Linked DNA regions of Homo sapiens: regions 2 and 3 are each linked to region 1. Evidence: fine-mapped expression QTL. A gene starts in region 1. Each other region holds a variant in brackets. All regions are shown on one strand. Distances are from middle to middle.

Region 1 (8,345 bases):
GACAACATTCATTAGGATAAAATGGGGGGAAGGATTATTATTCATGTTATTTTCCCTGCCCAAGACTTTATTTAACCCTGGACTCCGTTTACACAGACAAAGTGACATCAGAAGGCTGAGCACTTATCTGGATCATTTGGTCAGTTTGGTAATTCCTGCTCCACACCCCTATTTTCCTCTTAATAATACGTTTGGGTGAAGACAAATTAGTGTTTAGTAATTGCATCATCTCTGTGCTTACCTATACAAACATAAGTTTATTTTATATGCCCAGATGTCTACAGAGACCCTTTTTGTAAATGTCAAGGACATTTGGATTTACTTTTACAGAATATTGAAAAGATAAGACAAATTATAAATAAGTTCTAAAACATAAATTTAATTCATCTCTGCATAGTGATTTTTGAATTTGATTCAAAGGGAAATTATTGCAGAAGAATGCCTTTCCCTCATTTTATAACTTTAAAAACTTGGATTAACCACTCAATGTCCACTTTCTTTGACTTACAGTATAACCATGTAGCCAATTGTGGCCCACTAAAATCTACAGAAGTTAATGTGGGTCACCATTTTGGTCAGAAGCATACATTCCTGTCAGACAACTAGTTGTCTGACAGAAATGTTAGGCTTCATGTATGTTACCCCAGTACTGTTAGAAACATTTGTACTAGGTTATAAGATCTTTCTGTGACAGGTAACAAATTTGGGGAAGACAGCACAATCTTCTTGAATGTAGCTCTTGGGAATGCATTATTACATCCATTTCTGTAACATAATAATATGTTGCATGCAGTTATATTTTCTATTTAGTCTGTATATTTTGTTCTTCATAGTCTGTTTTTTCTAGCATGCTTGATTTAGGAGAGAATAAAGGGCTATATAATAATAAATCCAGATTTCCGGATAAGAATATTGCCTGGTTAAAATTCTGCATTGCTTAAAGACACCCATGTTTAAGATTTTTCATCACTAACATATCCATTAAAAGTATCAACTGGCCAGGCAGGGTGGCTCACGCCTGTACTCCCAGCATTTTGTGAGGCCAAGGTGGGTGGATCACCTGAGGTCAGGAGTTTGAGACCAGCCTGACCAAACATGGCGAAACCCCATCTGTACTGAAAATACAAAAATTAGGCATGGTGGTGCATGCCTGTAGTTCCAGCTACTTGGGAGGCTGAGACAGGCGAATTGCTTGAACCTGGGAGGCAGAGGTTGCAGTGAGCTGAGACTGTGCCATTGCACTCCAGTCGGGTTAACAGAGCAAGACACTGTCTCAAAAAAAAAAAAAAAAAAAAGTATCAACCAACAAATGTTACCAAGATAACGTGACTTCATGAGGGAGAATGTCACTATTAATTTATCATACCATTTCCAAAAAGGGCTTTGTGCTTTTCACATAAAATTGAGACAGTGTATATTTAATCTAATTTAAATTTTAAAGAGATACTGGTATTTTGAAAATGCAACCTATATATATTCTTAATATCCTTTTAAGAATATGGAGATGAAGATTGTTTTCTCCAATTTTCTGTGCCATTTTAAATTTAACTTTGACATCCAGCTATAGACAGAAATAATAAGCCACCCTGGGTGTAAACTTGATTTTCTTTATTGAGATGTATCATGTATTGAATGAGTGAACCAGAAAATTAGAAGATGGTCAAAAAAAGTCCAAGTTACCAATTTTTTAAAATTTATAGGCAAAGTATCAAATTGTCTTCTTAATATGATAAACTGTGCTTTATCATTCTGAAAACTCAGGATACAGCTTATTCATAGCATTGTGGGTCTCTCCAGTAAGAAAGATGCTAAAAGTTTTGTGCACTTTTTGTGTGTGTAATGCAAATTAGTTAAAACAAATAGTTTTGGAGAAAGTTAAAACTAGCTTTAGAGTAAGGATGAGAAACTTGAGTGTTTTTAATTTAAAGATAAAAGCCTGTGTTTTACACATTCTTTTTTGGTGTTCATAGCTTCTTCTCATACAGGTGCCAGACACTGTTTGTGCTTTTGATGGATTTTTATTTATATACTTTTTTTGCTTATTTTTACTTTGAGTGGAATGTTCATTAATGTAAATTGTATTTATTTTTATACTTTTATTTTCACTAGTTTTGCTTCTAGGCAAAAAGCAAAATAAACTTTTCATCTTAAAGAAAATCTAGTTTGATTGTTTTTATTTACCAGGGGAAGGACTATTAAGAAATAGGCCGGGCATGGTGGCTCATGCCTGTAATTCTAGCACTTTGGGAGGCCAAGGTGGGTGGATCATGAGATCAGGAGTTTGAGATCAGCCTGGCTAACATGGTGAAACCCCGTCTCTACTAAAAATACAAAATTAGCTGGGCGTAGTGGTGCATGCCTGTAGTTCCAGCTACTTGGGAGGCTGAAGCAGGAGAATCGCCTGAGCCTGGGATGGGGAGGCTATAGTGAGCCGAGATTGTGCCACTGCACTGCAGCCTGGGTGACAGAGCAAGACTCCATCTCAAAACAAAACAAAAAAGAAACCGATATTAGCCAGGCATGGTGGTTCACATCTGTAGTCCTAGGTACGCTGGAGGCTGAGGCAGGAGGATCACTTGAACCCAGGAGTTACAGGTGGCAGTGAGCTATAATCGCACCACTGCACTCCAGCCTGAATGAGACTTTGTCTCCAAAACAAAAAAGAAAAAAGAAACAGATATTGAAAAGTATTAGGCCAAAACAAATATTGTATATAATCATTCTTTACAAGTTCCATGAAAGATATATCTCATTATTTAATATGTCCCCTGGGCCAGGTGCAGTGGCTCACGCCTGTAATCCCAACACTTTGGGAGGCCAAGGCGGGAGGATCACCTGAGGTCAGGAGTTTGAGACCAGCCTGGCCAACATAGTGAAACCCCGTCTCTACTAAAAGTTGGACTTTTCAGAAGGTAAAACTCAGGCTGGAAATGTCTTAACTTATTAAGAGATAGAAGCCTGCTAAGGGAAGGAGAGGGAGAAAAGAGAATGCGAAGGTTGAAGCTCACATCAAAGCTGTTAATTTGCACAACTTTAAGAATCCTCCTCTTGTTACTGCCTAATCATGCAGTGTGAGCCTAGGAAAAGGCTCCTCACCTTGACCTCTTATTGAGATGTTGCATGTGATAACATGCATGGCTGTATGGGAAGAGCTCCTTGCTTTCCCGTGGCCACCCTTTAACCCTTGTTCACTTCCAGTGTTGGGAATAGCAGGTACGAGTGGATATACTTTCCTACTCATACTGAGCTGAACACTGGAGGGCCCGTTCTGGAGATGATCCTTTTCCCTGTCATAGGTCACCATCTCATGAACAACCACAGACCACCACCCCCGAATGAAAAGTAAGAGTTATAAAAACATCGAATGCTTTCTCTCTAAGGGACCATAATGGATATCTAAGTAAGTTATAAAAGTAATAATTAAAAAAAAAATTTTTTTTTGAGATGGAGTTTCGCTCTTGTAGCCCAGGCTGGAGTGCAATGGCGCAATCTCGGCTCACTGCAACCTCATCCTCCCGGGTTGGAGCAATTCTCCTGCCTCAGCCTCCCGAGTAGCTGGGATTACAGGCGCCCGCCACCATACCCAACTAGTTTTTGTATTTTTTAGTAGAGACGGGGTTTCACCATGTTGGCCAGGCTGGTCCCGAACTCCTGACATCAGGTGAACCACCCACCTCGGCCTCCCGAAGTTCTGGGATCATAGGCCTGAGCCACCGCTCCCGGCCTAAAATAATTTTTAAAAACGTTCTGTGGTCGAAATGGATATCCACCTTCCTAGAAACACTGCTTTGCCAAGTTGGACGAAATGCGAACCCTAATTTCCCCACGTGCATTAGCTGTAGTCAATCATATTAGATCTAGGGCAGCCCTCGGTTGCTAGTCGTGGGAAGGGCATTCTGCAAGTGTCTAAAACCGCCCGCAAAGCAGTGGGTAAAGCAGCGGCCTAGAGGGGGCATGGCTGTCCCACGCCAAACAGCGTATTAGCCGCAAAACCAGGTACTGGCTGAACCTCAGTTTGCGTCTTCGCTCCGCCGCCTTCTGGAGTCCTTTCTGCCCCTAGAGGACGCAGGTGAGCTAAGCAGCAGTCATGCCCTTTACCATCATGACGCCCGCAGGCGGGACCACCCGGCACTGTAGACAGCTGCCCTTTACAATCATGACTCATAGAAACTACGGCACTCTGGCCGTGGCCGACGTTGCTCCTCCGAAGCATGGCGCCGGCGGGAGTTGTAACCCGGGCTGTCCGGAGCGGGGAGCTGCCCCTCACAAGCATGGCGTCAGCTGAAAATGAAGCCTGTGCTGTGCGGAGCGTCGCCTGCCCCTCACAAGCATGGCGTCTGCAGAAGGTGCTGTGCGGCCGCTGCGGGGCGGCCAGCTGCCCTTCACAAACATGGCGGCCGAGGGGTGCGGGGAGTGGCGGGGTAAGGATGGGAAGCCGAGCAGACGGCCCCAGAACAAGCGGTCATGTGACTGGGAAGATGGCCGTCTTTCCTTGGTAAGGAAGCAGCGGCGGGTGGGCTTTGGAGAGGGGCTGTCCTTACTTGTGATGGGGTCGGCCTGGGTCTGAGAGTGTGAATTCCTCTCTGTCGGGTTCTGGTGGTCGACCGGCCACCCCCAAGTTGTCTTGACCGTAGAATCCCTGGCCGCTACCGCGGTCCAGCGGAGCAATCTGAAGCCAGACTGGCGGGTTCTTGGTTCTCTCCCCGTCTGCTGCCTCTCTGCGCCTTCCACGGGCCCCTGTCCATTCATTCCCTAAAGAAAACTTGAGTTTCCAGGCTTCCGCGTCCCCAGAAGTTGGCGCGGGTTCTGGGGTCGCTGGATGAGGGTAATGGTGGACTCAGCTTTTAAAGTCTGGACGAGTCGGGAGATCTGGCTGTTGGTCAGTTTCCTCAGCTCCTCTGTTCACCTGGAGACTTGCTTTTCTCATCTGTAAAATGGCCGCCATTCATCCTATCCTAGGCACAGCCCTCAGACTTATTCCTTGGCCTCAAGGAGCTGACAGTATAATGGGGCAGACGCACAGTAGAGGGATGTCTAAAGAAGGCATTCGGATGAGGCACCAAGAAGGGAGTGATTATCCCCACCAGGGGGCTAGGGGAAGGCTTCAGAGAGGAGGAGTTAAATTGGGTCTTGGAGGATGAATAGGAGTCCACCATAGGGAGGGCGTGGCGTGTGCCTGGTTGGCAGGCCCGTAGGTCCCTTGTGGTTGGAGTAGCTAGGAATGAGTGACTGAAGCTTCAGGGTTCAGCAGGTGGTATGTGTGTGAGTGAAGAACTTGAGGAAGTTGTGTTGTTGATGATAGTGGGATTTGGGGACGGGGAATCTCTCCTGCATCTCAGAAAGCGAGATAATTTACTTTCTCTTCAAATGATGTGAAGTAGCTTAGATTAAATGAGCAAATGAAAGACCTTAGAAATAATCAGGTACAACCTTCTGCTTTTGAGCTTGATAAACACTTCATTTTGTCTTATTCCTTTCATTTGCCCAACACTTAAGAGACTGCTTCCTTGACACGCTACATCAGCATTGAATGCCTCTGAGCACTTCCACACCCTGAGGTTTTTTTTTTTTTTTCAGTTAATAGTCATGCTGGCTGGGTATGGTGGCTCACGCCTGTAATCCCAGCACTTTGGGAGGCCGAGGCTGGCGGATCACCTGAGGTCAGGGGTTCGAGACCAGCCTGGCCAACATGGCGAAACCTAATCTCTACTAAAAATACAAAAATTAGCTGGGCTAAATTAGTGGTGGCACGCACCTGTAATCCCAGCTACTTGGGAGGGTGAGGCAGGAGAGTCGCTTGAACCTGGGAGGCGGAAGCTGGAGTGAACCGAGATCATGCCACTGCACTCCAGCCTGGGCAACAGTGAGACTCTGTCTCAAAAAAATAATAATAAAAAATGAAAAAGTCATGCTGGCTTGACCAAAAAGCTAACCAAAAACATGAGAAACATTTGACTTCAGTGGATTTATCTGAAGTTTGCAATCAGAAAATCCAGGAAGATGCTGTCTTAATCTCTGCATCCCAGTACATTTCTACCTTTGGAATTTTAATTTTATATTACAAGCAGGCAAACAGGTGCCATAACGCTTTTAGTATTTAGGGTCTCTATAGTTCCTAATATGGCCGTGCTCTAAATATTTTGTTGTTGTTGTTTTTGTTGAGACGGAGTCTCGCCCAGGCTTGATTGCAGTGGCGTGATCTTGGCTCACCGCAACCTCCGCCTCCCGGCTCAAGTGATTCTTTGCCTCACTCTCCCGAGTAGCTGGGATTACAGGCGATGCCACCACACCAGGCTAATTTTTGTATTTTTAGTAGAGACGGTGTTTCATCATGTTGGCCAGGCTGGTCTCGAACTCCTGACCTTAAGTGATCCGCCGACCTCGGGTTCCCAAAGTGCTGGGATTACAGGCGTGAGCTACCACACCCGGCCCGTGCTCTGAACATTTCCTTTTGAAGTATGCATTCATCTTTCAGTTTCCCTAATAGACTTCTTGCTCCTTAAAAGTTAAAAGGACTGGCTGGGCGCGGTCACTCATGCCTGTAATCCCAGCACTTTGGGAGGCCGAGGCAGGCGGACCACCTGAGGTCAGGAGTTCCAAGACCAGCCTGCCCAACGTGGTGAAAGCCCGTCTCCACAAAAATACAAAAAGTAGCCAGGCATGACGGCAGGTTCCTGTAATCCCAGCTACTTAGGAGGCTGAAGTGGGAGAATCGCTTGATCCCGGGAGAATCACTTGATCCCAGGAGGCGGAGGTTGCAGTGAGCCAAGATCGTGCCATTGCACTCCAGCCTGAGCTACTAAGCGAGACTCCGTCTCAAAAAAAAAAAGTTAAAGGGACTGAGTTTTGTCCATCTTTGTATGTGGAGCCTAGAACATAATGGTGAGTGCTGAATAATATTTATGAATGAATGAGGAAACTGAGGAGGACTGCAGAGGAGAAATGAGTTTCTGTCATTAAATTTACATTTATCAAGTCCTTATTTTCTGTCAGACATCACTCGTAAAGTGCGTAACATGTAACATCATTAGGTTCTTATAACAACCCCATGTTGCGGAGGAAGAAATAGAGGCAGAGAGATGAAGCAGTTTACTTAAATTAGCCCCACAAGGGATAGCTGAGGTTTGGAAGCCAGAGGCTATGATAGTAATCATCCTCATCAGCTGGACTTCAAATCTATATCCTGGGCTGAGGTTTCTGGCTTGCGGGGTTCCCCAAATCCCACTGCCTTGTCATGGGTCTCCCCAGGAATGCCTCTTTTTACCCACAGTTTTTGCTATCCCTGCTATATTTTGGCCTGGCTAGGAGATGAGATGTCCTGTATACCCTAGATCACATTTTCCGTTTAATCCTGTGGTTATAGCACACTTGGAAATACCACCCTTTGGACCGGGCAAGGTGGTTCATGCCTCTAATCCCAGCACTTTGGGAGGCTGAGGCGGGTGGATCACTTGATGTCCGGAGTTCAAGACCAGCCTGACCAACATAGTGAAACCCTGTCTCTACTAGAAAAAAAAAAAAATTCCTCAGGCGTGGTGACGGGTGCCTGCAGTCCCAGCTAGTCCAGAGGCTGAGGCAGGAGAATTGCTTGAACCCAGGAGGCAGAGGTTGCAGTGAGCTGAGATCGCGCCACTGCACTCCAGCCTGGATGACACAGTGAGACTCCGTCTCAAAAAAAAAAAAAAAACAACCCTTGGAGTCAGAATCTCTACATCATTTTAAGAGTTTTTTTTATGTGTAGCGGTGAAGGGGGCTGGGTAATATTGTGATTGTGGAAGAAAAAGCTGTGTGGTCCGATTATGTGATTAGTAACCAAAAACTTATTTGAGAATTAAAATAGTTGAGCAAAGCATTTAGTGGATTTTGGTGTTTCCAGTATAAGGAGATTAATTTGGTTAATCATAGTGGGATTTCTGTGTATCCATATTATCAGAGGTAAATAATTTAAAAATAGGCCATTGTCAACCTTTAATGTGCATATAAACCACCTGAGGATTTAGTTAAAATGCAGATCTGATTCTGTAGGCCTGGGGTATTTCAGCCCGCCCAGGTGATGTCATTGCTGGTGATCTGTGAACCACATTTTGAATAGCCAAGGGCTAAGCCCAGCCAATAGTGGAGGTGTGAAATGGTGGCCTTTTTTCCTGTGGCAGGTGCCAGTGATCCAGACAAGCCCTTTACATTACTGGGGGTTGGAATTATGGGGAATTTTTACCAGTTTATATCAACTATGTTAGCAAAAAGAAAAGGAATGATTTTTGAGAAAATGCCCACAAGAGGTCGCTGTTAGCCTTACCAAAGACCCAGAGATTAAAGAAAATGCTTTAACATCTCAGACTTAGGGA
Region 2 (8,000 bases), 110 kb after region 1:
ACAAAAATTAGCCTGGCACGGTGGCATGTGCCTGTAGTCTTAGCTACTCGGGAGGCTGAGGCAGGAGAATCGCTTGAACCCGGGAGGCGGAGGCTGCAGTGAGCTGAGATCACATCACCGCATTCCAGCCTGGGCAACAGAGCAAGAGTTCATCTAAAAAAAAAAAAAAACAAAAAAACATGAATGTCCCATGAACCCCAGAGGACTTGGATGAAGGAAGCCTAGTCCGTGTACTTGCTGCTTTTCCCCTTCCTCTAGTGGAACCAGGACAATATATATTTTTTCCTTTTCTAAAAAAATTTTTGTGGGTACTTAGTAAGTGTATATATTTACAAGGTACATGAGATGTTTTGATTCAGGCAGGCAGTGTATAATAATTACATCCTAGAGAATGGTGTATCCATCCCCTCAAGCATTTATCCTGTGTGCTACAAACAATTCAGTTATATTCTTTCAGTTATTTTTAAATGTACAATTAAATTATTGACTAGAGTCACTGTGTTGTGCTATCAAATACTAGGTCTTATTCATTCTTTCTATTTTTATTTTGTACGCAGTAACCATTCCCACTCCCCACCATGCCCCACCATTACCCTTCCCAGCCTCTGGTAACTATCCTTCTACTCTCTGTCTCCATGGGTTCAATTGTTTTTGTTTTTAGCTCCCACAAATAAGTGAGAACATGCAAAGTTTGCCTTCCTGTGCCTGGCTTAATTCACTTAACATAATGCCCTCCAGTTTCACCCATGTTGTTGCAAATGACAGAATCTCCTTTTTTATGGCTGCATAGTACTCCATTGTGTATATGTACCACATTTTCTTTATCCGTTTGTCTGTTGACGGACACTTAGATTGCTTCCAAATCTTGGCTATTGTGAACAGTGCTAAAACAAACAGGAGTGCAGATATCTCTTCGATATACTGATTTCCTTTCTTTTGGGGGTAAATCCAGTGGTGGGATTGCTGGATCCTATGGTAGCTCTATTTTTAGCTTTTTCAGAAACCTCCGAATTGTTCTCCGTAGTAGTTGTACTAATTTAACATTTGCACCAGCAGTGTGTGAGGGTTCCCCTTTTCTCCACATTCTCACCAGCATTTGTCGTTGCCTGTCTTTTGGATAAAAGCCATTTTAACTGGGGTTCGATGATATCTCATTATAGTTTTCATTTGCATTTCTCTGATCAATGATGTTGAGCACCTTTTCATATGCTTGTTTGCCATTTGTATTTTTTTTTTTGAGAAACATCTATTGAAATCTTTTGCCCATTTTTAAAATCTGATTATTAGATTTTTTTTCCTATAGAGTTGTTTGAGCTCCTTATGTTCTGGTTATTAATCCTTTATCAGATGGGTAGTTTGCAAATATTTTCTCCCATTCTGTGGGTTCTCGTTTCACTTTGTTGATTGTTTCCTTTGCTGTGCGGAGCTTTTTAAGTTGATGTGATCCCATTTGTCCATTTTTGCTTTGGTTGCCTGTGCTTGTGGGGTATTACTCAAAGAGGGGACAATATTCTTTACTACTGGGAATCTGAGTTCTCCTTTTTCTGTAGGTCTTTAAAAAAAAATCCGTTATATCTTAAATGAGCTTCCATAGCTCTTAATAGCTACAAAACAAAGTGTTACATGAAGTTGACATGATTATTCTGAACTTTAAACTATAAGGATAAACTGCTGTCACATGGGGTAGGATTTGATTTCTAATTACTTAAGATAAGATTGAGAAGTCTCCAGACAATATTTTCTATATGGGGCAAGTCTTCTGAGGATAGAACTAAAAATCTGCTTTGGAACCCTGCATGCCCCAACCTTTAAATAACTGTTTATTTTAGCTCCGTCCTTTAGAGTGGAAACTGGGCGGGGTGGGTGAGAGGAGCCAAGTTCTGGGGACAAAGCTGCTCTCTTTTTAATGAGGCATAATAATAGGCACATTCTCTGGGCCAGTCAGTAACAAACACATAAATAGAAAAAAATGGTCTTTCAAGTTGCTCTGAGCAGAATTTGCATTCCCACTGAGAACCTTGTTTCATGATATACTTACTTCACTGTGGGACTGCCGGAGGACTAAGGAAATGAACTGCTTAAAGATAGGGCCTAGGAGATCCTGTGGGTTCCATAAGTAGGGCCATGTTTTTCTTTCTTTCTTTCTTTCTTTCTTTCTTTCTTTCTTTCTTTCTTTCTTTCTTTCTTTCTTCCTTTCTTCCTTTCTTCCTTTCTTCCTTTCTTCCTTTCTTCCTTTCTTTCTTTCTTTCTTTTTTTTTGAGACAGAGCATTGCTCTGTTGCCCAGGCTCGGCTCACTGCAACCTCTGACCGACGGGTTCAAGTGATTCTCCTGCCTCAGCCTCCCGAGTAGCTGGAATTACAGGCATGTGCCACCATGCCCAGCTAATTTTTGTATTTTTAGTACAGACAGGGTTTCACCATATTGGCCAGGCTGGTCTCAAACTCCTGACCTCAAGTGATCGACCCACTGGCCTCCCAAAGTGCTGAGATTACAGGCGTGAGCTACCGTACCTGGTTGGGCCATGTCTTACTAGTGGTCACAAGATAGAAGACCCTGCAGGCTCTGACCCTTTCTGGAAGGTTTCTCTATCAGAACGGACATCAGGTGGCTTTTCCTCAAGCCCCATATTTAATGTCTCTCCCCAAAACAATTGAGATAAGTGGATTCATAGACCAAAATACGTAACAGGCTTAGAAAATAAGTGTTGGCCCAATGCGGTGGCTCACGCCTGTAATCCCAGAACTTTAGGAGGCCGAGTCAGGCAGATCGCTTGAGCTCAGGAGTTTGGGACCAGCTTGGGCAACACGGTGAAACCCCATCTCTACAAAAAATACAAAAATTAGCCAGGGATGATGGTGCACTCCTGTAGTCCCAGTTACTGGGGAGGCTGAGGTAGGAGGATGGCTGGAGCCCAGGAGGCAGAGGCTGCAGTGAGTCGAGATCACACCGTTGCACTTCAGCCTGTGCGACAGAGCAAGACCCTGTCTGGAAAAAAAAAAAAAAAAACCAGAAAAAAAAATAGTTGTTAATTAGTATGATTATGTTGGTCTCATTGCCACAGTTTATGTTGTCAACGCTTTCTCTCACTTTTTTTTCATCTGTTTGTCTACCTGCCCATGACAGTACCCTGTTCACAGTTGGGGCTTAATAAATGTGGAAGGGGTTTGAGTTTGGGGTTCAGGAGACAGCCAGGCAAAGAAGCTTCCAGAGCAGAGCTAACTTGACTCAGAAAGCTTTACAAGGAGTGTCTTTCTGTGACATGTTTTTTTTCCCTCTCCTTTGAAGAAGGAAGAGATGGCAAAACTCCACCATCCATCTTCAGACACATACTCTTCTCATTAAACATAGGCCTTTCTTCCCAGGAAAGTGAGCATTTGCTGTTGCATTTGCCCCTCTGGTGTGCTGGCCGGTGTTCCTGTTTTAATTCAGGATGCTGTTCACCCCTACAGTGTTCTCTTTGCATCACTGGAAGTCGTTTTGGAGTGGAAGTCCATTTGGACCATGAAAACATTTGATCTTGTCGGGTAGTTTAAAATTTCATTTGTCAGGTCAGTGTTTTGATTGTTTTGACCTTGAGGCTTTTTCTCACGGTCAATACCTTGGCAGTTTTAGAAAGAACTTTCACTCCCTCTCCGTCTTCCCCTCCACCTCCCATCCTTCCTGCTCTCCCTCATCCCTTCCACCCCGTCTCCTGTTGTGCACACACATTCTCTCTCCACTCCTTTTCTTCCTCTCTTACTCCCTTTGAAGTCTTCTTGTTTTACAGATTTTTTCATAGCTCTTTAAATATCTTCATTTCCCAAACGATTCTATGGAGCTGATGTTAATCAGAAGCCTTTAAGCTG[A/AGT]GTGTGTGTGTGTGTGTGTGTGTGTGTGTGCTGTGTTCCTTCAGACATTTTGATGGCTATTTAACAAAAATGGTGTGCACTAGAATAGATTCAAACTGACCTGGGTTTGAGCTGCAGCTCTACTACCAACACTGGAACTTCATACACAGGACACTGTTGCAGGATGAATTGCTTCTCTTTCCTTCCCTTATTTCTCGTCTGTGAAGTACACGTGTTGACAGCACCTTCCTCGCACTGGTAGACATGAGAATTCAATGAACCAATCCAAGTTGAGCTTTAGCCCAGGCAACTGTCATTTCTAGACTTTTTACAAAAATTTGCGACCTGCTTTTTTCACTTAATAATCTAAAGACAATTTAACAGAGGTTCTCTGAGCTGAAGCAGTGCCCTGTCAAGCAAATATTCCTCCAGCTCCATCATGGTTTGCAGAAACCTTCTGCTAGGACCTGCCCTCGGCATGGCCTGGCTTCTACCTAACTCTCAGGACTGGCCTTCAGGCCACGTGAAGAAGAAAGCCAACTAAATTTCCCAGAGTTCTAATATACTGACTTTTATCTTCTGTCTTGCAGCTGATGCTTTTTTCAAAGCCGCTATAAGCCTTGTTCCGGAAGTTCCAAAGATGATTAATATTGATGGGAAGATGCGGCCATCGGAATCGTTCCTTCTGGAATTCCTCTGCAATTTCTTTTCTACTTTATTAATAGTTCCGGTACGTTTCCTCAGCAGAACCGCAGGACATGTCTTCCTTTCACCTGCCTTATAATATTATATGTGTTCTTAGGCCTAAAACTGCAGGAACATTCTATCTAGTATCTTTGTGTTGGTTTTCCAGTTAGGTATTTGAATTGCTTAATGAATTTTCTATTCTTGCTGGGTGGGGATCATACTATAATAGTAGAGGTGAGGTACTATGTCAGCTCAGGCTGCTATTACAAAGTGCCATAGACTGGGGTCTTAAACAACATTTATTTCTCAGAGTTCTTAAAGCTGGAAGTCTGAGATCAGGGTGCCAGTCTGGTTGAGTTCTAGTGAGGACCCACTTCCAGGTTGCAGACAACCATCTTCTCTCTCTTTCTGTCTCTCTTTTTTTTTTTTTTGAGATGGAGTTTCACTACTGTTGCCCAGGCTGTAGTGCAATGGCATGATCTTAGCTCACTTCAACCTCCACCCCCCAGGTTCAAGTGATTCTCCTGCCTCAGCCTCCTGAGTAGCTAGGATTACAGGCGCCCGCCACCACACCTGGCTAATTTTTGTATTTTTAGTAGAGATGGAGTTTCACCATGTTGTTCAGGCTGGTCTTGAACTCCTGACCTCAGGTGATCCACCTGCCTTGGCCTCCCAGAGTGCTGGGATTACAGGTGTGAGCCACCATGCCAGGCCTTTTTGTGTGTTTGTTTAGGAGTCTTGCTCTGTCACCCAGGCTGGAGTGCAGTGGTGCAGTTATAGCTCACTGTAGCCTTGAACTCCTAGGCTCAAGTGATTCTCCCGCCTCAGCCTCCTGAGCAGCTGGGACTGCAGGCCCATCTTCCCGTTATGTCCTCATGTGACAGAAAGAAAAAGCAAGGGCAAGCTCTCCGGCCTTTTGAGCAATTGGTCCTCTGGGACCTAATTACTACCCAAGGGCCCCACCTCCAAATCCCATCACATTGGGATTAGGGTCTCCGTGTATGAATTTGCAGGGGGATACAAATATTTAGTCCACTGCACTCTCTATACTGCCAAGGCAGAGGTGTCGCCCAGTGGGGAAGGGCACAGGCCTCGGAACCAAGATGTCCAGCATGGAATCCTGGCCCATCCTTCTTCCAGCTCTGCGTTCTTGGGCAATAATATAACATCCCTGGGCTGCAGTTTCCTTGTCTATAAAATGAGGATAAGAACTGTCACTTCTGGGTTGCCATGAATATTAAGTTAGTGAGTACTCACAATGTCAGAACCATGCCTCTGCACATAGTAAACTTTCTAGAAAGCACTAAGAAGGTGGCGACAAAGTTCTTTTGATGGCAAATAACAGAAACTAAACATAGCAGAAATTAAGAGGGGCATTGTTGGAAGGATGCTGGGTTTTTCCTGGGATGGAAGAGATGTACAGCCAGGCTTGAGTTGGAAAGAATGAGGCCACTCCCGGGACCCAGCAGGAGGAATTCCTGGACCCTCCCTAGCAAGGGTCCTTATAACTTGGAGTCCATCTACTCCCTGGGGGTCTGGCAGAGTGACATGAATTTGGATGAGGAAAATGACAGCTTTATTTTAACAAACCTCTGAGTGAAATTTACCTTTCACTCGATGAATTACAGGCAAAAAGCCACAGTAGTAGTAGCAGTAGCTGGGACTTTGTCACCAAAAGAAATCAACAGATATGTTCACATCACATTTCAGATGTGAAAGATATTTCAGAAGATTGTGTATGTTCTTCTTCCTTTCAAAGCACAGCAGTTATTAAGCCCATTGCTAGAGCTGTTAATGCATTCACAAAGAAGCAACAGATTACAGTATCACAGAAGCATTGAAAAAATATTTTGCCAGCTGTATTTTAGTGTAATTGGTTTGCTTTTTAGTCTTATGTGTTTTATTTGCTGCATTAAAAATAATATTCCAAGGACTGGGCACCGTGGCTCATGCCTGTATCCCAGCACTTTGGGAGGCGGAGGTGGACAGATCACCTGAGGTCAGGAGTTTGAGACCAGCCTGGCCAACATGGCACAACCCCGTATCTACTAAAAGTACAAAAATTAGCTGGGCATGGTGGTGGGCACCTGCAATCCCAGCTACTTGGGAGGCTGAGGCAGGAGAATCGCTTGAACCCAGGAGGCGGAGGTTGCAGTGAGCCGAGATTGCACCACCGCACTCCAGCCTGGACAACAGAGCAAGACTCCATCTCAAAAAAAAAAAAAAATGTATTCCAAGGGCCAGGCATGATGGCTCACTCCAGTAATCCCAACACTTTGGGAGGCTGAAGCAGGTGGGTCACCTGAGGTCAGGTGTTCGAGACCAGCCTGGCCAACATGGTAAAACCCCGTCTCTACTAAAAATACAAAAATTAGCCAGGAGTGGTGGCAGGCACCTGTAATCTCAGCTACCAGGGAGGCTGCGGCAGGAGAATCGCTTGAACCTGGGAGGTAGCGGTTGTAGTGAGCCAAGATTGTGCCACTGTACTCCAGCCTGGGCAACAGAGCAAGACTCCATCTCAAAAAAAATAAAAATAGTATTCCATGGAGTGTATAGGCTTCACCTGGCTGCCGCAGGGTGCATGGCACAGAACAGATTAAGCACCGCTGGTAGAGCTTAATGTGCATGGGAATCTCAGACTCTTGTTAAAATGCAGATTCCTGGGGCCCCTCCCAGAGTCTCACTCAGTAGGTTGAAATAGGCTCACAAATCAGCATTTTTAAAATCATCTAATTGTTTTATTTTGAGAAGGGGTCTTGCTGTATGCCTAGGCTGAGCTCCTGGGCTAAAGTGATCCTCCTGCCTCAGCCTCCCAAGTAGCTGGGCCAACAGGCATGTGCCAGCCACCACGCCTGGCTAATTTTTTTTTAATGTTTTATAGAGGTACATTCTCACTACATTTCCCAGGCTGGTCTTGAACTCCTGGCCTCAAGCAATCCTCCTCCCTCACCCTCCCCAGTACCTGGGATTACAGGTGGGATCAACCATGTTTGGCAAATGGGCATTTTTAAAAGCCCCCTTCAGTGATTCAGGGGTAAGTGGTCCTAGGACCATATTTGAGAAACATCACCCTGAACTTGAGCCATAAAAGTGCCTGAGCTCCAGTGGATCCAGGTTCCTTTTTGGGGTGATGATATGTTCCAAAATTGACTGTATTGATGATCGCACAACTCTGTGAATATCCTGACAATCACTGAATTGTACATTTTAGCAGGTATACTGTTTGGCATGTGAATTATATCTCAGTAAAGCTGAGAAAACAGAAAGTGACTCAGCTTCTGACTCTCCCTGTTCAGATTCCAAGTCTTCAGACAGAGGGGAGCGAGGTCAGGAGGCCAGGCTCAAGGACTGCAGACATGGCTTCAGGATGGGGGCCTCTTGTTGTCCTGCAGGGAGGATAGGCGGCACCCCAAGATGGGGCAGCGTGCACTGGCATTTTCTAGAGCCCCTTCACTTGACACTTGATGTCACTGTTTTCAGATCTCCA
Region 3 (8,000 bases), 56 kb after region 1:
GAAATCATTTCCATGTGAGAGGTTAACAAAGGCCTTCATGGTGTTTGTAAGTTTTGTGTTTTTTCTTTCATTTCTCCATATTCTCTTCCATTCCTTAAGATGTATGTCAAGTCCAGAACTGTGAGAAATAAATTTCTGCTGTTTAAAAATATGTATGTCAAAATCAAGCTTGGGTACCAGTTCCAGAAAACTCAAAATAACAGTAATGAAGGTCAGGGCCGATGGGCCAGCTAGCCCCTGGTACCAAGGATCCTCACTTCTGTCTTGTTGCTCTCATGGTCAGTATGGCTGCAGAGGTTCCAGCTGTCATGTCTGCATTCCAGTCAGTGAGCAGAAAGAAGAAGTGAGGGAAGGCAAGCCCCTTTCCTTAAAGATACTTCTCAGAAGTTGCCCTTCTATTTATATATCCTGGGACCAGAACTTGACCCACGTGACCACACCTAGCTGCAAGGATGGCCCTGTGTCCTGCAGGAAAATGCGAGTTCTTTTATTAAAGAGGAAGAGAATAGCTAATGGAGTAAACTGGCAGTTTCACAAGATGACTCTCTTGGAGCCAGTCGTGAGCCGGCAACATAATTCTGGCTGGTTTCTCACCTCAGAGGCCTTGTTTTACCTTCCTCTGGCCCATTGTGATGTGTAGAGCAAAAGCTTAGATCACATTTCATGTTGCAGTCGCAGGTCCGTAAAGCATCTGGAATTCTCAACAATGTTGTCATAGTGACTGGTAGGTAACCAAGAACCTCTGGATTATATTAGAGGCAGTGGCTAAGAATGTCGGCCGCAGGGCCAGAGTGCCTGGGTTGAATTCTAACTCTTACATTTGCTTGCTGTGTGCCTTGGGTGAGTCACTACATTCCTCTGTGCCTTGGTCTCTGCATCTGTAAAATAAGATAATAAAACTACGTACCTCAGAGGGTTGCTATATGGGATCAGGTGAGCTGTCTGTAAAGCACTGCGAACGACACTTGGCACTTAGAAAGCCTGTGTCTGTGTAAACTATTGTTATCATCAGTTACTTCCTAATAGTGATATTTGGAAGGAAAGAAACAGGCTGAGTCACCCCCTTTTCTGCTCCAGGGTAATGTATTCCCATCCAGGGACTCACACAGATCCTGAGATTTAGGAGGGCTGATGGATCTTGTTTTTTGTATTACAGATCACTTTTCTCCAGAGAATGCAAATGACACGGCCAAGGAAACATGCCTAAATTGGTTTTTCAAGATTGCCTCCATCAGGGAACTCATTCCAAGATTGTATCCTTTTTTTTTTTTTTGGTCTGATGATTTTAAAGATAGGCTAAAAGAATTGTACTGTTAATAGAAGCCATGTGATGGGATGCCCTGACATTCTTATTGAAAGTTTGGTCCCGTTACGGTTGCTAGCCTGAAAACACATACAGGGCAAGCCACATTGTAGAAACCCTTGGACTCTTGCTCTTTCCAGTTTTTTGTCTTTTACTTTGAATACGATGCCATGTGTCAAGCATTTGTTTCCTTGAGGAACATTCCCACCTTAATTCTCTCAATTAAAATGCTTCATATTTGTGTTTTCTCTGATTCCAAGAACTTGAAAGAACAGGGTCAAGCTTTGCAGGGCAAATGCTACTATTGAAGAACAGATAATTTGACTTATACATAAATTCCATCTTAGTTACCTAAAGTTCTTTCTTTCCCCATAAAGCATTGATTAGAAATGCTCAAAACCCAGTTTATATTTCAGCATGCAACTATGAATCAACGTATAACATTTCCCACAATTTATTTCAAATAAGTATGAAACTTTGAAAACCATATGTAGAAACCATAAGCTACCTTAGTTCGCTGGATTGTTGAGGGCCACTGTGGTCCCCATCTCCTAAGACCCGCCTACTTCTATTCATGGATAGTTTAGTCTTTTCTCCATAGGGAGTAGACCTTCTGGAAAACATCTTCCTTAACAGGATGTTTTTGTAGTTACGTGGAGGCATCCATCCTGAAATGTAACAAATTCCTCTCCAAAACGTAAGGCTCTTCGGTAAAATCTAGAACCATAAAATTTCTAAAAATCTCCCATGTGTACACAGATAGTAATGGCAATGTAATAGTAGCCATTATTCACTGAGTACTTAATGTGTGTTAAGCACCTTCTGTTCTTTTTCTCATTGAATCCAAATGAAAACTGAATGAAGTAGAGACACCATCCTAATCCCCATATTAGAGAGAGGAAAACTCAAGCCTGGAGAAGTTGGTTAAGGAGGTCATGGAAGATCAGCTCAACTGGATTTGAATCTTGGCTGTACTGGTACTAGCTGTATGGTCTTGAACAAGTTACTTACAGCCTCAGAACCTCTGGCTCCCTCTCCTGGGAACATGACCCTAAGAAGAGGTCTGAGGGGGTCCTTTGGGTCACACATGCAACAATGAGAGTCACCCCTGGCACACGGTGGGCCCATCCTCCATGTTGGCTGCTGTTGATGATGATGATGATGAAAATGACGTCAGAAGCAGAAGCCTTTGCCCTTAGTGGCTTAGGTCCATGCCACTCAATTTATCACAATGTTTTGAGAGTAGTTACAGGACGTGGGGGACCCAGATCTGCTTTCTGCAGAGCAGGTGAAATGCTGAGTCATGTTAGATAGCTAGATAATAAATTCCTTGAAGCCCGGGAGTGACTGATTCATGGTGCTCCACAGATAGCTCTACCGATTGGATTTAGAATTTATCTCAAGTGTGTTGGATTTGGATCTAGGGTTGCCTGGAATAGTTTGGGGGAATAACATGGGGGCTGAAGAAACATTATTTTGCCTCACCAGTTGGAGGAGGATAATGCCTTAGGCAGAGGGAAGACATACGTTGCAGGAGAAATAAATTGTAATTCACATTGTTGGTGGTTGGAGGATGTCAGATGCCAGCCTGAGATTCACGGAAGGAACAGGGTACGGGACAGTAAATCTGTGGCAAACGAAAATACATGTGGAGAGAAGATCAAGGGGTGCCCAGTCGATGGAAAATAATTGAAGACAAAAACTGTTAAAATTAATAAAATAAATGTGACCTCGACTGGGGAAAAAATGTGGTTAGCCTCCACCACTGAGCAAATGATAACGATGAAAGAAATCATTCAATGAATGAATTGTATCAGAAGAGAAAGACTGTTGTTACATTGCCTTAGAAAACTGAAACTTTGACCTTGGTTTGTTACTGAAACTTGATTTTTCCCCCCCTCCCTGAAATTTAGGAAGTCTTTATCTTTATTTAAAAAATTAAAGAACAGCGAGTTCTCACGTCGAATATAATGCTGGCCTGTTTTTGTCTCTTGCAGGGGAATTTCAGAGTGCCTGCCCCGGTTGACATGCATGATCAGAGGGATCGGAGACCCACTAGTGTCGGTGTATGCCCGTGCCTACCTGTGCCGGGTAGGCCATGCGAGTCACTGCCCTTGACGGCACGGCTGCCACCCGTCTCCTTGAATGTTCACACAGGGCCCTCCTTCCCCACCACCCCGCAAGTCATTGAGAGAAGGACTTTATTAGTGGCTAATTTTAGATCATGGCTCTGCCACAGAAAGTAGAACTGTAGGGTTTCTTTTAAAAATTAATTTTAAAGTAGACCAACTTACTGTAGCTCTAATTAGGGGACGTTTAAGGTCATCTTCTTACAAATGAACTGGTTTTCAGAAGTAATTGTTTCTCAGTTCTTGCTGGGAAGGAGGTTCCCAGGGCCTTTGGGCTAACAGGTTGCTTTTCATTGACTTCAAACATGCTCTTCCTTTGTCTTG[A/T]CTTTGATTGCTTTATTAGTTTTCTGCTTGGCAGGGGAGCAGTGTCCCACATGATGGCAGGCCTCAGGGTCTGTGTGGCCTGGCTTAGGTGGCTGCTGTGAAAGGGGGTAGAGGGACTGATTAGAAATTACTTGCCCATGCCCTGCTTTAAAGCACCGTGAGGCTTCAGCTAAGCTATTAAGTTTTTTGTGTATGGAAAAAATGTAACCAATGGAGGTTATATGGTCTTTCTTTTTTTTGGAGATGGAGTCTTACTGTGTCGCCCAGGCTGGAGTGCAGTGGCGCCATCTCGGCTCATTTCAACCTCCACCGCCTGGGTTCAAATGATTCTCCTGTCTCAGCCTCCTGGGTAGCTGAGATTACAGGTGTCCGCCACCATGCCCGTCTAAGTTTTGTATATTTAGTAGAGATGGGGTTTCACCATGTTGGCCAGGCTGGTCTCGAACTCCTGACCTCAAGTGATCTGCCCACGTTGGCCTCCCAAAGTGCTGGGATTACAGGCGTGAGCCACTGCGCCCGGCCAGTATATGGTCTCTCCATAGTTTTCTTCAGCTCACACAGGGGCTTTGCCTCTGTCAGGACTCCCCCTAGCAACGAGAATCTTCCCTATCGTCCCATCAGTATTGCACATCCTTAGAGAGGGATCATTGCACCTGATAAGCCCCAGACTTCCTTGAGGACAAAGCTGCAGTTAGAGCCTCCCCCATGAGTTTGCACCTTATTAAATCAGAAGGCGAGAACATGTAGCCTGTGATTTGCCTCTTCTGCATGACAGCCAGCAAATGTCGGAAGCCCTGTGGTCTCTCAAGTTTCACGAAAAACTAAGTCAGTGCCCTCAGAGTGAGGAGCAGATATCCATTAGGAAGGGCACTTTTTATAGGTCTGTTTCTTGATACTGAGAATGAAAGAAAAAGCCTTTCGTTTAAGGGCATCCTCTTCCCTCTTTGCAGCAGAGGCCAAAGTGTGTATGCATCGCCCACTGCTTGAAACCTGGGGGGGATTTTCCATCCAGAGATATCAGGTGTGTTTCCAAGGACAACTTTTGAATATATTAAAGCTTGAATACTCCTCCCAAGTCAGTGTTTGCTGAGGCCCTACTGTGCACAGAACACAATGCCACATCCTCTGGGAGAGATGCAAAGATATTGTTTGCATATTTCTTTTTCCTTTTTTTTTTTTTGAGATGGAGTCTCACTCTGTCGCCCGGCTGGAGTGCAGTGGTGTGATCTCAGCTCGCTCTAACCTCTGCCTCCAGGGTTCAAGCAATTCTTCTGCTGCAGCCTCCCGAGTAGCTGGGACTCCAGGTGTGCGCTACCACGCCCAGCTAATTTTCGTATTTTTAGTAGAGACGGGGTTTCACCATGTTGGCCATGATGGTCTCAATCTCTTGACCTCATGATCCGCCTGCCCCGGCCTCTCAAAGTGCTGGGTTTGCAGGCATGAGCCACTGCACCCGGCCTTTTTTTGTTTTGTTTTGTTTTGTTTTGTTTTTTTGCACCAGAGTCTCACTCTGTTGCCCAGGCTGGAGTGCAGTGGTGCAATCTCAGCTCACTGCAACCTCTGCCTCCTGGGTTCAAGCGATTCTCATGTCTCAGCCTCCGGAGTAGCTGGGATTACAGGCACCTGCCACCATGCCCAGCTACTTTTTGTATTTTTAGTAGTGACAGGGTGTCACCATGTTGGCTAGGCTGGTCTTGAACTCCTCACTTCAGGTAATCTGCCTTCCCCGGCCTCACAAATTGCTGGGATTACAGGTGTGAGCCCCCGTGCCCAGCCTTGTTTATGTATTTCTTCTCTGCTGCCTTTTACCTTGTAGAACATAGCAAATGCTTTGAACACACCTTGACATCATTTGAATAAGGCCTGATATCGGAGACCCGGTGATAAAGACTTAGAATCATGCTGTCTCTTCTGCAAATAATTCTGGTTATTAAAGAGAAATCAGAATGTGGGGAAGTATGTATTTTTTGCAAGCCTGTTCCCTTTTAATGTTTGAGATCAGGTATGTGAGTTAGGGTACACGATCATGTTTGTTACATATAAAGTGCCTTTGAATGGCAGATGCAACTTGAAACACAGTGACAATGAGGAGAAGATGCAGAGGACAGAGCAGACCCCCCACAAGATTGGTAGTAGAGTGCCCTGCGTCTGTTGAAATCATTTTTGTCAGTCCAGGCAATGCATTGATTCCGCTGGTTGGGTAGTTTCTAAAAGTCTCTTTAACATTAAAAGAGTAAGAGAGACCAAGCGCGGTGGCTCATGCCTGTAATCCCAGCATTTTGGGAGGCCGAGGCGGGCAGATCACTTGAGGTCAGGAGTTCAAGACCAACCTGGCCAACATGGCAAAAACCTGTCTCTACTAAAAAATACAAAAAATTAGCCGGGCGTGGTGGTACACGCCTGTAGTCCCAGCTACTCGGAAGGCTGAGGCACGAGAATCACTTGAACCCAGGAGGCAGAGGTTGCAGTGAGCCAAGATCGCGCCACTGCACTCCAGCCTGGGTGACAGAGCAAGACTGCCTCAAACAAACAAACAAAAAGAGACAGCCTGTGTATTAGTAAGATTTCTTTCAGTTCCAAGTGGCAAAACCCAGTTCATACTACTTTAAGCAAAAGTAAGAACTTACTGGCCAGTGTCTGGAGAGGCCAGGGTTAGTGCAGGCATGGCTGGATGCAGGCCCTCAAAGGGTGCTGTCAAGAATCAGCCTCTCCCCACATCACTCAGCTCTGCTGTTCTTTGAGTTGGCTTCATTCTGTGGCTTGCTTTTTTTATATGATGGCCCATAGCGGCCTCTGGCTTCCATCCTACCACCTTAGGAACCTTATTGGAAAGTGTGTCTTCTTGCCAGTAGATCTAGCCAGAGCCTCAGGGCTGATTCTTGGTGGATTACCTCGGGTTGTTTGTCCACCCCTAGACTAGTCACGTGGCCATGGGTTGGGGTCTGGGGTTGGTGTCTGGGTACTTACTGACTGGGTCACATGCCCTTGCATGGAGCTCAGGGTGAGGTGGATCTAGCTCCACCACAAACCTCATGGTCCAAGAGGAAGGTTTGATTCCCCAGAGACAAATCTAATTTGCCGATACCAGCAATGGGGGGGATGAATGCTGGGCAGGCCGAAACAGCAGATGGGAATCATGAGCAATACCCTTGCTGCTCTGGGTAGAAATCTTTTAGACCCAAGCAGATATCCAAGCTGCTCATTTGGCCCGATGAGAAGAGAAAAACAGAAAACAAAAGCTCTGAGTGGGTAGAGCGTGGGGGGAGCTTGAAGCTGTTATTAAAGGAAGGTATGATTAACTCCTAACTCACAGCCGCTTCAGCTCATCTCCATGGCTCAGCCACCAGGCCAGCCTTTGCTGTCACCTAACAGATAATTATTGTCTTTTCTACAATATGATTAAGTGGAAGGAGAATCAGAACACTGTAGAACTGGATCTGATATTTCTTGTTAGCATATATATATATATTTAATCTATGTGCTTGTCCTTGAAAACAGCACTTCCTGTACCCAGCAATCACAGAGCTGCTCTTGGAATTTAACACCCTGGTGGTTCTCAAATGCCATCTGAAAAACATTATTAGTGTTACCCATCATGACCTCTGGGTAGTGGAAGGTGAATGGGAGAAATCTCTCCCCATTTGAAGAAATAGGGAACCAGTCTCACTTTGTTGCCCAGGCTGGAGTGCAGTGGCACAATCTTGCTCACTGCAACCACCACCTCCCGGGTTCAAGCGATCCTCCCACCTCAACCTCCCAGGTAGCTGGGTCTACAGGCGTGCGCCACCACACCCGGCTAATTTTTGTGTTTTTAGTACAGAAAGAGTTTCACCATGTTGACCAGGCTGGTCTCAAACTCCTAACCTCAAGTGATTGGCCCACCTGGGCCTCCCAAAGTGCTGGGATTACAGGTGTGAGCCACTGCAGCCCAGCCTACGAAGTTGTTTTTGCGGTTAAGCAGCAATTTGGAAACGAAGCATTTCTGAGGAGCTCAGTTTAAGAAACACTGTGATGTTGTGTTTTAAACCTATGAACTCCCCTCCGTAGCTCATCCCTCTACTTTTCCATCTAACCCCAGTACTGGCACCTTCTCTATGATTAGTAAATTTCTTCAGCTAGAAATGTTACAGTCTGTTTTTTAACAATGAAGTCAGGACCCAGTGGATTATAGCATTGTTACACTTCATGCTCATGTTATATAAAATTGCATAAAATGTATTAAAATTTATGTCTGCTCTTATCTC

Which allele goes with the higher level. Positions count from the first base shown, and alleles are read on the strand shown. Sizes are in standard deviations (SD) of each study's normalised expression. Not every link is listed here.
As copies of AGT replace A in region 2, the expression in monocytes of the gene that starts at base 4,452 in region 1 goes down (small effect, 0.37 SD a copy in Quach 2016).

The links.
Region 2: its variant is fine-mapped to the expression of VPS35L in monocytes (Quach 2016, PIP 0.95).
Region 3: its variant is fine-mapped to the expression of VPS35L in blood mononuclear cells (TOPMed, PIP 0.93).

Annotation. Positions count from the first base shown.
Region 1 is chr16:19,551,252-19,559,596 of GRCh38, forward strand. It overlaps VPS35L (VPS35 endosomal protein sorting factor like), which reads left to right and starts at 4,452. Exons shown (of 31, transcript NM_020314.7): 1 at 4,452-4,495. The coding sequence starts at 4,479. It overlaps CCP110 (centriolar coiled-coil protein 110), which reads left to right. Exons shown (of 14, transcript NM_001323572.2): 14 at 1-2,157. The coding sequence ends at 20. RefSeq lists enhancers at 4,047-4,526, 4,086-5,048, 4,907-5,136.
Region 2 is chr16:19,664,744-19,672,743 of GRCh38, forward strand. VPS35L (VPS35 endosomal protein sorting factor like) reads left to right here. Exons shown (of 31, transcript NM_020314.7): 27 at 4,417-4,556. Among named protein-coding and RNA genes, the nearest start is that of KNOP1, 49 kb to the right of the region's middle. The variant A/AGT (reference allele first, on the strand shown) is at 3,848.
Region 3 is chr16:19,607,022-19,615,021 of GRCh38, forward strand. VPS35L (VPS35 endosomal protein sorting factor like) reads left to right here. Exons shown (of 31, transcript NM_020314.7): 10 at 1,157-1,253; 11 at 1,953-2,000; 12 at 3,301-3,394. Among named protein-coding and RNA genes, the nearest start is that of VPS35L, 55 kb to the left of the region's middle. RefSeq lists an enhancer at 2,201-3,400. The variant A/T (reference allele first, on the strand shown) is at 3,757.